Linked DNA regions of Homo sapiens: region 1 is linked to region 2. Evidence: fine-mapped expression QTL. Tissue or cell type: skeletal muscle. Region 2 holds a variant in brackets; the other region holds the start of a gene. All regions are shown on one strand. Distances are between the middles of the regions.

Region 1 (6,128 bases), 210 kb before region 2:
TGCATGGAGCTCATGTTCTCTGCCCTTGGCCAAGCTATAGGCTTAATAACAAATGTCCTGCCCTCATCAGAGGAGACCTGAGATGGTCCAGTACCTTCCATAACTGGGCAGGTATGTCTATTGTATGCTCAGCTTCAGATATAAGCACAAAGGTACCTCCCACAACCTAAACTTCACCAGTAATAAAGTTGATATTTTGGCCTTCATCCACATACCTCTTATTTCTCAGTTGGTTCAGAACATGAGAGCAAATGATAACAATACAATGCTCCAAAAATAAAATGAAAACATTATAAAAAGGCTCCAGGTGTGAATACAAACCCTATTCTGTTACAAATACTCAGGGAGAAATGAAAGTTTAAAGATTATATCTACTTGCACAGTAAGGTATAAGACAGCAAAGTCCAAATGAATTACATTTTGAATGGTCAATGATAAGGAACTTATCAAGAGCTGCATCACTCAGTGGACTTTTCACAAGATTCTCTTTCACAATAGTAACCATCGCAATCTTCAGAATCAAAAGCTCTGTCCACCCAGTTTACAAACTCTACCAAACATACGCCCCGCTACCACCGATCCCATCCCATCCCCCCTGGCACCAGCACCTACATCTGAATGCAGATATTTATGCTGGACTGAATTCTATGTAAACAAAATAAAACTTTGAAAAACAACAGCTAAAAACCCTTGGAGTTAAAAAATGGCAATAATATAATGTGTGGTGCTAGTGGAAAAAAAATAGAAAAACGTTAAGAAACTAGAAATGGGACCCAAATACAGAAGAGGATGATAGAGTGAATTAGTGAAATCAACAAGGACTGATTCAAATACAAATTTACTTTAGCTGTTTATTCATTCAATACATGCCTATTGAGTGCCTGCTGTGGATTAGGTTTGGGTACTCTGTGCGCTAGGTACAGGGGGTTCAATGGGAACAAAATAGACATGAGTTTACCTTGTATTTTTGTTAAGAGACAAAATAATGCTAACTGTACCAATCCTGGTGTTTAGTAAATATTAGATCCTCAATGAAAATCAGTTATTAATATTTTAATATAGGAAAACAGGGCCAGGCGCAGTGGCTCATGGCTGTAATCCCAGCACTTTGGGAGGCCGAGGCAGGTGGATCACCTGAGGTCAGGAGTTCGAGACCAGCCTGGCCAAAATGGTGAAACCCCATCTCTACTAAAAATACAAAAATTAGTTGGGTGTGGTGGTGTGCACCTATAGTCGCAGTTACTCAGGAGGCTGAGACAGAAGAATCGTTTGAACTTGGGAGGCGGAGCTTGCAGTGAGCTGAGATCATGCCATTGCACTCCAACCTGGGCGACAGAGCGAGACTCCATCTCAAAAAAAAAAAAAAAAAAAAGGAAAAGAGGTCAAATGGAGATTGTTTACTAAATAGTATTAGGTAAATAGTATTAGGATAACCGGCTAGAGATCAGGGAAAACAATTGGTAGAGGTACCCCTTATAAAAGACATCAAAACAAATTTCAGAAGAATTTATTTAAATTTAAACATGGTATTAAAAAGCACAAAATAAATGTGTTATCAGATCTGTGAAAGAAGATTCATGTCCTCAGTTTTGAAGAAATAAAACCACAAGGAAATGAACAGACCTTAATACTGAAACATAAATTTCATACAAAAACAAAACAGCAGACTGAGGGAAATATTTCATTTGGTGTAATTGATAAAAGGTAAAAATCTGGAGAAAACATTTCAATTTATAAGCAAATCATAGTGATGCCAATAAATAAGCAGACTAAGGATGTTGCAGTGGATAGCTTCATTGTTTTTTTGTTTTTGGCAACTGTGGTAGGCAGAATAATGGTCTCCCAAAGATGTCCACATCCTAATCCACAGAAACTACAAATATGTTTAACATTACATGGCAAAGGGGGATTAAAGTTGCTAATCAGCTGACCTTAAAATAGGGATTGTATTAGTCTGCTTTCACACTGCTATAAAGATGCTACTCGAGACTGGGTTATTTATAAAGGAAAGAGGTTTAATTGACTTACAGTTCTGCATGGCTGGTGAGGCCTCAGGAAACTTACAGTCATGGTGGAAGGGGAAGCAGGCACATTTTTCACAAGTCAGCAGGAGAGTGGAGCAAGGAGGAACTTCCAAACACTTACAAAACCATCAGATTTCCTGAGAACTCAATGACCACAGCATGGGAGAAACCGCCCCCATGGTCCAACGGTCTCCCTCCCTCGACCTGTGCGGATTACAAATCAAAACGAGATTTGAGTGGGGACACAGAGGCAAACCATATCAGGGAGAGTATCCTGGATTACACAGGTGGGCCCAATATAATCACAAGGGTCCTTGAAAGTAGATGAAGGAGGCAGAGGATGGCAACAGTGATGCAGTGTGAGAAAGACTTGATCACTATTGCTGGCTTTGAATATGGGGAAGGGGTCATGAGCCAAGGAATGTGGGCAGCTTCTAAATGTTGCAAACAGCAAGGAATTGAAATTTCCTCTAGAGCATCCCAAAAGGAAAAGAGCCCTGCCAACACCTTGATTTTAATGCAGTGAGTTTTTGTGTCAGACTTCTTACTTATGGAAGAACTGTAAGATAATAAATTTATGTTGTTTGAAGCCACTAAGTTTGTGGTAATTTGGTATAGCAGCAAAGGGAAATTCACACAGCCAGCTACTTTTTAAACGCTGTTCCTGTGTTTGCAGAATCTGTAACCTCAAGGGGCAGAACCTTCCTTCTGCAGAATATGAGGTCTTTTCCCAGCTGCACTTGCAGCAAGGGCACAGATCCATGGCCAGTATCTGTCAATTGTACACCTGCATGATTTTGAATTAGAGGCTGGTCATGTGCAGAGGGGAGCCTGGCAGAATCTGTTCTGTGAGGGCAGTGGCAGGGACAGCTGTCACTGCAGCAGCGTGTTGCTGTCAAAGACAGCAATTCCCACAGCAGGGTTTGCGCACAGTATGGTGTCATGGTGGGCACCTGGCAGTGTCAGAGTCCAGTGACGAGTTCCAGGAGCCTGCCCTAGGCTGGACTTTGGACATTTTTCCTGGCTGTATAAGCCCTAAGCCTGGTGCCCTTGTCCTCCTGGAGATTCTGGGAGCCTTAATAAGTTCCTTTTCTGCTAAATTAGCCAGAGTTGGTTTTTGTGGCTTGTGATTCAGAACCCTCAGTAAATCAGATATGAATGAACAATTCAATTCACTCAAAAAGAAAGTGGTGACACATCCCTGTAGTCCCAGCTCTCAGGAGGATCGATTGAGCCTGGGAGGTCGAGGCTGCAGTGAGCCGTGATCATGCCACTATACCCCAGGTTGGGTGACAGATAAGACCCCATCTCAACAAAAAGGAAAAAAAAAAGCAAGAAGAAAGAAGAAAAAGAAAGAAAGGAAGGAAGGAAGGAAGAAAGGAAGGAAGGAAAGAAAGAAAGAAAGAAAGAAAGAAAGAAAGAAAGAAAGAAAGAAAGAAAGAAAGAAAGAGAAAAAAGAAAGATGACAAAAACAGGAGAAAAAGTTGACCCTAGCTAGCAGTCAAAGAAACTCACAGCTTGAGGTGCCATATGATAGTTACTAAAAACAAAAACAATTGTTTCTGTAGCACAACAACGAGAACAGTTCCTCAGATAATGTCATTTCATTCAACTTTTTTTTTTTTTTTTTAATGATGAGAAAAAAATTGATTCTCTGCCAGGGCCACTGTCTGTGTGGTTTGCATGCTCTCCCCACGTCCACAGGGGTTTTGCTCTGGATGCTCTGGTTTTCTCCCACCCCTCAAAGAGGTGCATGTTCAGTTCACCGGCATGTCTACATGGTCCTGGTGTGAGTGTGGGGTGTGTGTGAGTGTGCCCTGCGATGTGACAGTGTCCTGTTCAGGGCTGGTTCTTACTTTAAGCCCTGAGCTGCTGGAATGAGCTACAGCAACCGGAGACTGGAGACTCCGGCAACCTAGAGAACTGTTATTATTGAGTAAGTTATCTTACTTGCTTTTATTTATCTTTCTTAAATGTATGTATAGCTCATATTTATTTCAGTGGTTAATATCAGAAGTGTTTTTTTTTTTTGAGACGGAGTCTCACTCTGTTGCCCAGGCTGGAGTGCAGTGGTGCAATCTTGGCTCACTGCAACCTCTGCCTCCCAGGTTCTAGTGTTTCTCCTGCTTCAGCCTCCTGAGTAGCTGGGACTACAGGCATGCGCCACCATGCCCGGCTAATTTTTGTATTTTTAGTAGAGACGGGGTTTCACCATGTTGGTCAGGCTGGTCTTGAACTCCTGACCTTATGATCCACTCGCCTCGGCCTCCCAAAGTGCTGGGATAACAGTCATGAGCCACCGCGCCCGGCCTTTGGTTTTTATTTAGAATTTTGATGTGTTTGTGACTAGAAATAAACCATAGGAATATTAATTTGCTTGTGGTAAAATTGGTGTTACTTACTTTCAGATTGCAAGAACATATTGACAACCTTAAGTGAGGACTGACTGTACCTTTGTTTATAGCTAGTAACTAAATGGATACACTGTTTGGAAAGTAATTTGGAAAGGAGTAATAGGAATATTTAGCAAAAATCTGTAAACGTGTCCTTAGCTTCTGACCTGGCAATTGCCAAGAAGCTTGGGAGGGTGTTTGGTAAGATAAAAATTATTTGTGTGCTTGTGTTTGAAAATTATTGATGTGGGCTTACAGTGTGTTAAACTAGGGGTGATAAAATTTGCATTAGGACCCCAGAAGCTTTTAGAGAGCAAAGAGATTAGAACCTATATTCAGTTTCCTGAAATGTAAAGTGACTGAAGCTGTCAGAGCGGCTGAGATCAAGGCTCTCTCTGAGGCTGGGCAGGAGAATGACTCCCCTGGGAGAACATTTCCACAAGGGGAAAGTGGTTAGTAGATGCGTACCCTGCACCAAGGCACGTGATTAAAGGGGAATATGGTCTGTGCAGTAGCCATACCAGGGGGCAGTTTATGCCCCCAGAAAACTGCTCTCAAAAAGAACCAAGAGCTGTAATTTTGGGAACACAAGCCTCTTTGGTGGAGAATGGTGTTATTGCTAAATGCTCAGCATCTGGGGAGCATTTTAATGCCTGATGCTGCATCAACTTGTGGAAAACTACCAATAGTCCTTGAAATAAGCATCACAAAGTCTTGTAGAAACACAGCAAAATGTTTATGATGCATATGTAAGTAAAAATTGTATGCAGAATAGGTACTTGTGATGTTTAACTATGTAGGATTTGAGGCATGTGGGCCAGTGGGTTGTTAGAGTTAAAAAAAAAAGGAAGAATGCTTTTTTTTTTTTTGAGACAGAGTCTCTCTCTGTTGCCCAGGCAGGAGTACATGGGCATGATCTCAGCTCACTGCAACCTCCACCTCCCAAGTTCAAGTGATTCTCGTGCCTCAGCCACCCAAGTAGCTGGTATTACAGGCGTGCACCACCAGGCCTAGCTAATTTTTTTTTTAAGTAGAGATGGTGTTGTGCCATTTTGGCCAGGCTGGTCTTGAACTGCTGACCTCAAGTGGTCTGTCCGCCTTGGCCTCCCAAACTGTTGGGATTACAGGTGTGAGCTACCACACCTGGCCCAAGAATGCTTTTATCATACTGTCTTTCCTGTTCAAAATATTGCATCTCTTACCAACATGTTTCACTAAAAAAACATGAGGTCACCAAATGCCTATTTAAGGAACTGAATTTTTATTTTTAAAAATAAAGTCCCCCAAGTGATGCTACTCATCTGTTTCTTTGGGGAATCCCAGATGCCTGAGTTAATGGTCAGAACATCATTTGGCTGGGAAACAATCCATATAGGTGCAACTGTCCCTGGGTGCGTGGCCCCGTGATTGGGTGCAGCTCCCTCTCAGTCAGTTCTCACTGTCTTATCAAGACTCCATCTCTGAAATCTTGAAATGCATCTTGAAATGCAAGGATCCTTAATCCATTTATTCCTTTGACAAACAGAAAATGAGCCCTTCTGTCTGTTCACGCTTCCCCTCTTTCCTCTTCTGAGAAATGGAGGTCTAATTGCTGGCATGGGAAAGAGCCTTGTTTTAACCGTCAGCTCCGCCCTAGTGGATGGAAGACAGGGTTAGCATGCCCTGTTTTTCATACAGCACCTGGGCTTGTAAAATGGAACTAAAGAAGGAA
Region 2 (6,128 bases):
AAGATTATTAATTGAGTACATTCTAAAGCAGGGGTGTCTAATCTTTTGGCTTCCCTGGGCCACACTGGAAGAAGAAGTGTCTTGGGCTATACATAAAGTAAAACACTAATGATAGCTAATGAGCTATAAATATCACAAAAAATATCTCATAATGTTTTAAGAAAGTTTACAAATTTGTGCTGGGCCACATTCAAAGGCTGTAGGTTGGACAAGATTGTTCTAAAGGATAATCTCAGTATTTAATGAGCCCCATTAACTCTGCGAAAAGAACAGTGTGGGGTTTGAGACAGGTTCTTTCTACTCTGCCCAGGCTAGTCTTGAAGCCCTGGGCTCAAGAGATCCTCCCACGTCAGCCTCTCAAGTAGCTAGGATTACAGGCACATGCCACCCTGTTCTGGTGAACAGAACAATTTAACATAGCAATACATCCTCTAAAAGTCAGTGTACTCTCTAATTTTTAATATTTGGCAAAAACGAAAAAAGCCCTCTTCAGAAACAAAATGGAATGTTTTTTGAAGCCATTCAAATGCTGCTACATTCCATTCTTGCTAAAAAACATATTTAATTAGCACATTTGAGACTCACGCTCTGCACAGCTGCACAACATTCCAGAGATAGGCCAGCTACCGATACACTCTTTACATGAAATACCACTGACTTTAAAAGTTGAGGAGACTGAGAAGCAGTTCTCAAGTATGACTCACTAAAGATAGGTTTATTTCACGTGAACAAAGTTTCCTTTAACAAGAGTGTAGTCCAGTGAAAATACATACTATAATTAAGAATAAAAAATGCATGTACACATGTACCAATAAAATATTTCTTCACAGCCGGAAAAAATATATATAAAAAATTCAAATGACAGACAAGAATAGTCTCCCTTTGAAACAAGACGATACATCAGCCTTCTCTCTAATTAAACTTTTACCTTTTATGAATTAAGCAAGATTTCTAGAACTAGGATGAAACCTATGTCAGAAACACACACTTCGAAGGCAAAATAGGCCTTTCAAAATAAGAAATCATCCTGATTATCAGGGAAACTCGGGATTTCCTTTAGCCCTGGGTGTTGATTTAAAAACAAGCAAACAGACAAAAACCTACCTTTGAAACAGAGAATGAAAGACAGGATGTGTGCTGGTTTCTTTCCTTCCGAAATGGCAGGCAGATCTCTTTGCTCCAGGCTAGAGGCACTTCCCCAACTCCACCCCAGGAGATAAATTGGGTATTTAGGGACAACTGGCAGCACAGACTTGTCAATCTTGCTGTGAGAAGGACCAGGCCCCTCTCAGAGAAGTCACCTGACTGATATCTCTGACCACAACTCATCTCCTGAAATAGTGACAGGTATTCTCATCTGCTCAGAGGACTGGCTAAGGCCACATTCCAGCCCCCTACCCTCCTCTAACCTAGGCCGCTGGGACCACTCTGGGCACTGCCTGGTCTTGTTGCCATCCCAAGTGTCAAGACCTAACATTTGCAGCTGCCTCAAGATCAAGTTGAGACTCCTACACCAGGCTTCAGGCAGCTCAGGCACAGTAACCATCAAGCATTTCCCTTGATGGGCTTTGGCCACCTGCAAACAAAATGATTCCCATCAGGTTAGGAGTTTCAGAAGAATCCCTTAGTTGGAGAAAGTCCACCCAGCCCAGCTCAGATTTTTCCCTCTTAACTGTGAAAAGGGCCAACACTGACCTTTAGTGTTTAAACCCCAGAAGAAGGCCATTTGTCACTTTTCCTTGGGGCCCATTACCCAAATGAGACTAACAGCAACCCCCAAGTTTCTAAAGGAAATTGCTGGAAAGAGCTTTTTTTATCTTCCAATGAAATATTTCTCCCCTCTTCCCACTCCCTCTTTTCCTTCAGCAGATACGGAAGCCGTTTTGGCACCTTCCTCAGAAAGAAGCCGAATACTAGAGTTAAAGGCAACAAAGGCCAGCAAGTCACCTCCATCCATCTGATGTCCTAAAGGCTTAAAGAACTGGCTTGCATAATCAAATAGAAATAACGCTTTTTCTTCTTGAAACAGATCCTAAATCCCAAGATAGAATTGTAAAGAATCCAGCTAATACAAAGACCCCAAGAAAGCTGAGCTCTAGTATATGCTTTCATCAGTTACAACCAAACCCAGCCCAGTAAAATTTATTACACTTAAAACCAAGATTATAATAACCACATCCATTCCACTGCGACACATTATGGGATAGGTATTTCAAAGACTCTGAAATCAGAACACAAAAGTAAAATCAGATGTTGTCCGAAGCATATGGAGATGTCTCTCAGGGGAATT[A/G]ATGCAACTGTGATGGGAATTCCCTTCAGAACAAAACAGAAAGCACATTATCTAATGAGAATTTAATTTCTGGTATTTTTCCATTGTAAAAAGACATTATTCATAAAAGAGAAACAGCTATAATAAACAAATTTTTGAATTCTTTCTTCCTTTCCATTTTTCTTTAACATCCCACCCCTAAAACAGCTCAGGGCAACAGATAGTGTTCATGCTACAGCTTTAACTATAGACCAGTCATTAGATTTTATGTTTTGCCATGCAACATGCATAAGCTGCAAGAGTGCTGAACATCATCATGTCATTATAGAGACTGTCAAAACTCTACATCTTCAGTTTAAGATTGGAGGATTGGCCCTTAATATGTATGTGTGAGATGAAGAAACATGCACAGAAAAAAAAGGCTTAAAAGAGAAACACTAAAATAAATAAATAAATATATATACACACATATTTTTTTATTTTTTTATTTTTTATTTTTTTATTTTATTTTTTTTGAGACTGAGTCTCACTCTGTCACCCAGGCTGGAGCGCAATGGTGCGGTCTCAGCTCACTGCAACCTCCACCTCCTGGGTTCAAGTGATTCTCCTGCCTCAGCCTCCCAAGTAGCTGGGACTAGAGAAGCCCACCACCACACCCAGCCAATTTTTGCATTTTTAGTAGAGACAAAGTTTCACTATGTTGGCCAGGCTCGTCTCAAACTCCTGACCTCATGATCTGCCCGCCTCGGCCTCCCAAAGTGCTGGCATTAGAGGCGTGAGCCACCGCACCTGGCCGAGAAACACTAAAATATTAACTGTATGTTTCCGGGGTCACATAGTATCTAGTGATTTTAATTTTCTTCTTTGTATTCATCTTTAGTTTCCATATGATCTAAAACATCTATTATTTCAGTAATAAAAAGATATCTTAAAAATACTTTTGTATTTTGTTATGATGATTTTATACTAACTTATGCCTTTATGATGGTATATAGTCTTCATAAGCCATTCAAAAAACCACATATACTATGTGTATTAGCAGAAATTTAAAAAAAAAAATCAGGGATTCTAAGGTGGTAAAAATACAAAGACTATTTTAATTTTTAAAACTATTGTAATCACTATAAAAACACTCCTGGCCAGGCGCGGTGGCTCACGCCTGTAATCCCAGAATTTTGGGAGGCCAAGGAGGGTGGATCACTTGAGGTCAGGAGTTCGAGACCAGTCTGGCCAACATGGTGAAACCCGTCTCTACTAAAAATACAAAAATTAGCTGGGCATGGTGGCAGGCGCCAGCTACTCGGGAGGCTGAGGCAGGAGAATCGCTTGAACCTGGGAGGCGGAGGTTGCAGTGAGCCGAGATCGCGCCATCGCACTCCAGCCTGGGGGATAAGAGCAAGACTTTGTCTCCAACAACAGCAACAACAAAGTACTCCTATGTTTACAGGTTTCAAAATGCCGTGGAAAATGTTTAAACATCACAGATCAAAATAAATAACATTGTTTTAAGGAAGAATCTAAGTTTTCCTTCCCATTCAAGTAAATAAGATAAAGAGAAAAAAGCCCCCCCACCCCCAAAAAAATCCCCTATCCCTATCCCAGCCCAAGACTTTACAGCTGGTGAAGAACATTCCAGAAAAATGTACAGCCCTTCAACATTTATATTTGGCCTTGAGGCAAACACACTAGAACAAAATGTATCCCTGAAACAGCCACCCAAGAGTACTGTAGGGAAACGAAACTTCACCGAGAGCCAAAGGCAGTGGCCATTAGTGGCTGATTCCTCCTGGACAATGTTTCTGTCAGGCGCTCTCTCGGCCAGTTCTTAGAGCTTTTCCCACACTCTGCATAAGTAATGAACTGCCAAGGCTGTAACAAAAATGAACATTTAAACAAGGAATGAAAAGATCTTTCAAAAATTTCAGTGTTCTTTATATCTTCATTATTAATACTGCTTTTCCGTAAGTTTGGTAGAAAAAAATTGAACAGCAGAAAGTATATTTAGCTGGTAAATTATTTGATTAGTTTGTATCCAGCTAAAATGAGGTTTGGTCAGAAGTGTTAGGATATTTTTGATAAAGAACAAGAATTTGTTATTTCCTAAAACTTAAAAAATATGGAGAAAAAAATATACAGAGATGAAATCTTCTGCAATTCCATTACCCAAGATAACCAATGTTAATAGGCTCATGAACTTTCTAAGAATAAACATACTTTTTTTTTTTTTTTTTTTTTTTTTTTTTTTTTTTTTTTTTTTTTTGAGACGGAGTCTCGCTCTGTCGCCCAGGCTGGAGTGCAGTGGCGCGATCTCGGCTCACTGCAAGCTTCGCCTCCCGGGTTCACGCCATTCTCCTGCCTCAGCCTCCCGAGTAGCTGGGACTACAGGCGCCCGCTACCACGCCCGGCTAATTTTTTGTATTTTTAGTAGAGACGGGGTTTCACCGTGTTAGCCAGGATGGTCTCGAAGAATAAACATACTTAATTACACAAATTACACTTTGAAAATACATACCTCAAAGGAATAAATTCTGTTGTACTTATATATCATCCTAAATTTCATACTAATTGATCTATTGGGTAAAAATCTATAGTTATGTTCTAATACATATTTTACTGCCTAACTAGTGGCTTCAAATTTGTATATTAAAAATCAGAACTAACAGGGCATTCTCGATTCTAGAGCAGAGATATTAAAATGGTTCTAAAAATCACTCAGATGTTTACTGTCACAGTTGAGAGTTTCTTAAGAATGGACGTATGACTCCTATAAACAAGGGTCAGTTTTAAAGCAATCTTGATAACATCTTATTTTTATATGTCAAAGCACAATTAATCCTGAAAGCTTCTTCAAACAACCACTCAGTTAAAGCTGATGGCAGAAAAAATACAAAATTAATGGAAATTCATTAATTTTTATAAGCTACATTTCACAAAGTACCAACACACTTAGAGACTTGGACCATAAAATAGAAAGTACTATTCCCTCCCAAACATTTCCTCCACTGGCTAAGGACAACTTGACTCATTCATGGGACTCCTTTTCAAAATACTGTCTCTATAAAATTCCCCATTTAAAATGTTTTAAAATATGTGCCTCCCTTCGTGGTAGAGATTACTCAATCAAACACACACCTCTCTCTCCCATGTGTGAGATATATATATATATATATATATATATATATGAGATAAACATGATATGTATGCATCATATATGTATATATACAAAAATATAACATTGCACAGGAATTTCTTTTCATACAAAAAACGAAGAATATTAAAATTAGTTCCTCTCAATCTTAGCCTACAATATTCCCAGATGCTGAGATACCATTCACTGAAAGTAAATCTAAATCTGAAGTGATTTTTATTTTAAAATGTTCACTTGGAATTTTACCTTCATTTCTGACCAATTCCACTGAAACCTGATGGTCTAATGGTTACAAACTAGCTCCAGTAGCAGTGTTTAGGTTTCCACGAGTGAGAACATGCACGTCATGGAATTCCACTGCTCTGCACTCAAGTGTGGAGACTGGAAATACCAAAGAACCCTGGTCCTCTGCTCTTTTCAAGCTGCCTAGGTTAGTGTAGAGAATTAATACATTTGAATACACTAATTTATCTCACACCTATACCCTTAAGATGCTAACTTACACACTGTATCATTGCTCTTAGAAAACTGCAAAGAAGGACAGATATAACAATCGCTGGATTTAAAACTATTTCTTAATAATGATCTACAATTGGACAGATTTACTTTTTTCTTTCCTTTTTAAAAATTAGAATTTTTAAAGTGTTGATTGCTTTTTTGATTATTAAAAAATGGTGCCCAAGGCTGGGCACGGTGGCTCACATTTGTAAT

Alleles and levels. Positions count from the first base shown, and alleles are read on the strand shown. Sizes are in standard deviations (SD) of each study's normalised expression.
As copies of G replace A in region 2, the expression in skeletal muscle of the gene that starts at base 3,739 in region 1 goes up (small effect, 0.31 SD a copy in GTEx).

Evidence for each region. PIP is the estimated chance that this variant, and not a neighbour inherited with it, causes the effect.
Region 1: it holds the start of SPTBN1-AS2, and the variant in region 2 is fine-mapped to the expression of SPTBN1-AS2 in skeletal muscle (GTEx, PIP 0.94).

Annotation. Positions count from the first base shown.
Region 1 is chr2:54,677,656-54,683,783 of GRCh38, reverse strand. SPTBN1-AS2 (SPTBN1 antisense RNA 2) reads left to right here and starts at 3,739. Exons shown (of 3, transcript NR_186176.1): 1 at 3,739-3,960. It overlaps LOC105374653 (a long non-coding RNA gene), which reads right to left. Exons shown (of 3, transcript XR_940104.2): 2 at 2,029-2,228.
Region 2 is chr2:54,464,963-54,471,090 of GRCh38, reverse strand. The region is part of intron 1 of SPTBN1 (spectrin beta, non-erythrocytic 1); the gene reads right to left. Among named protein-coding and RNA genes, the nearest start is that of SPTBN1, 12 kb to the right of the region's middle. The variant A/G (reference allele first, on the strand shown) is at 2,291.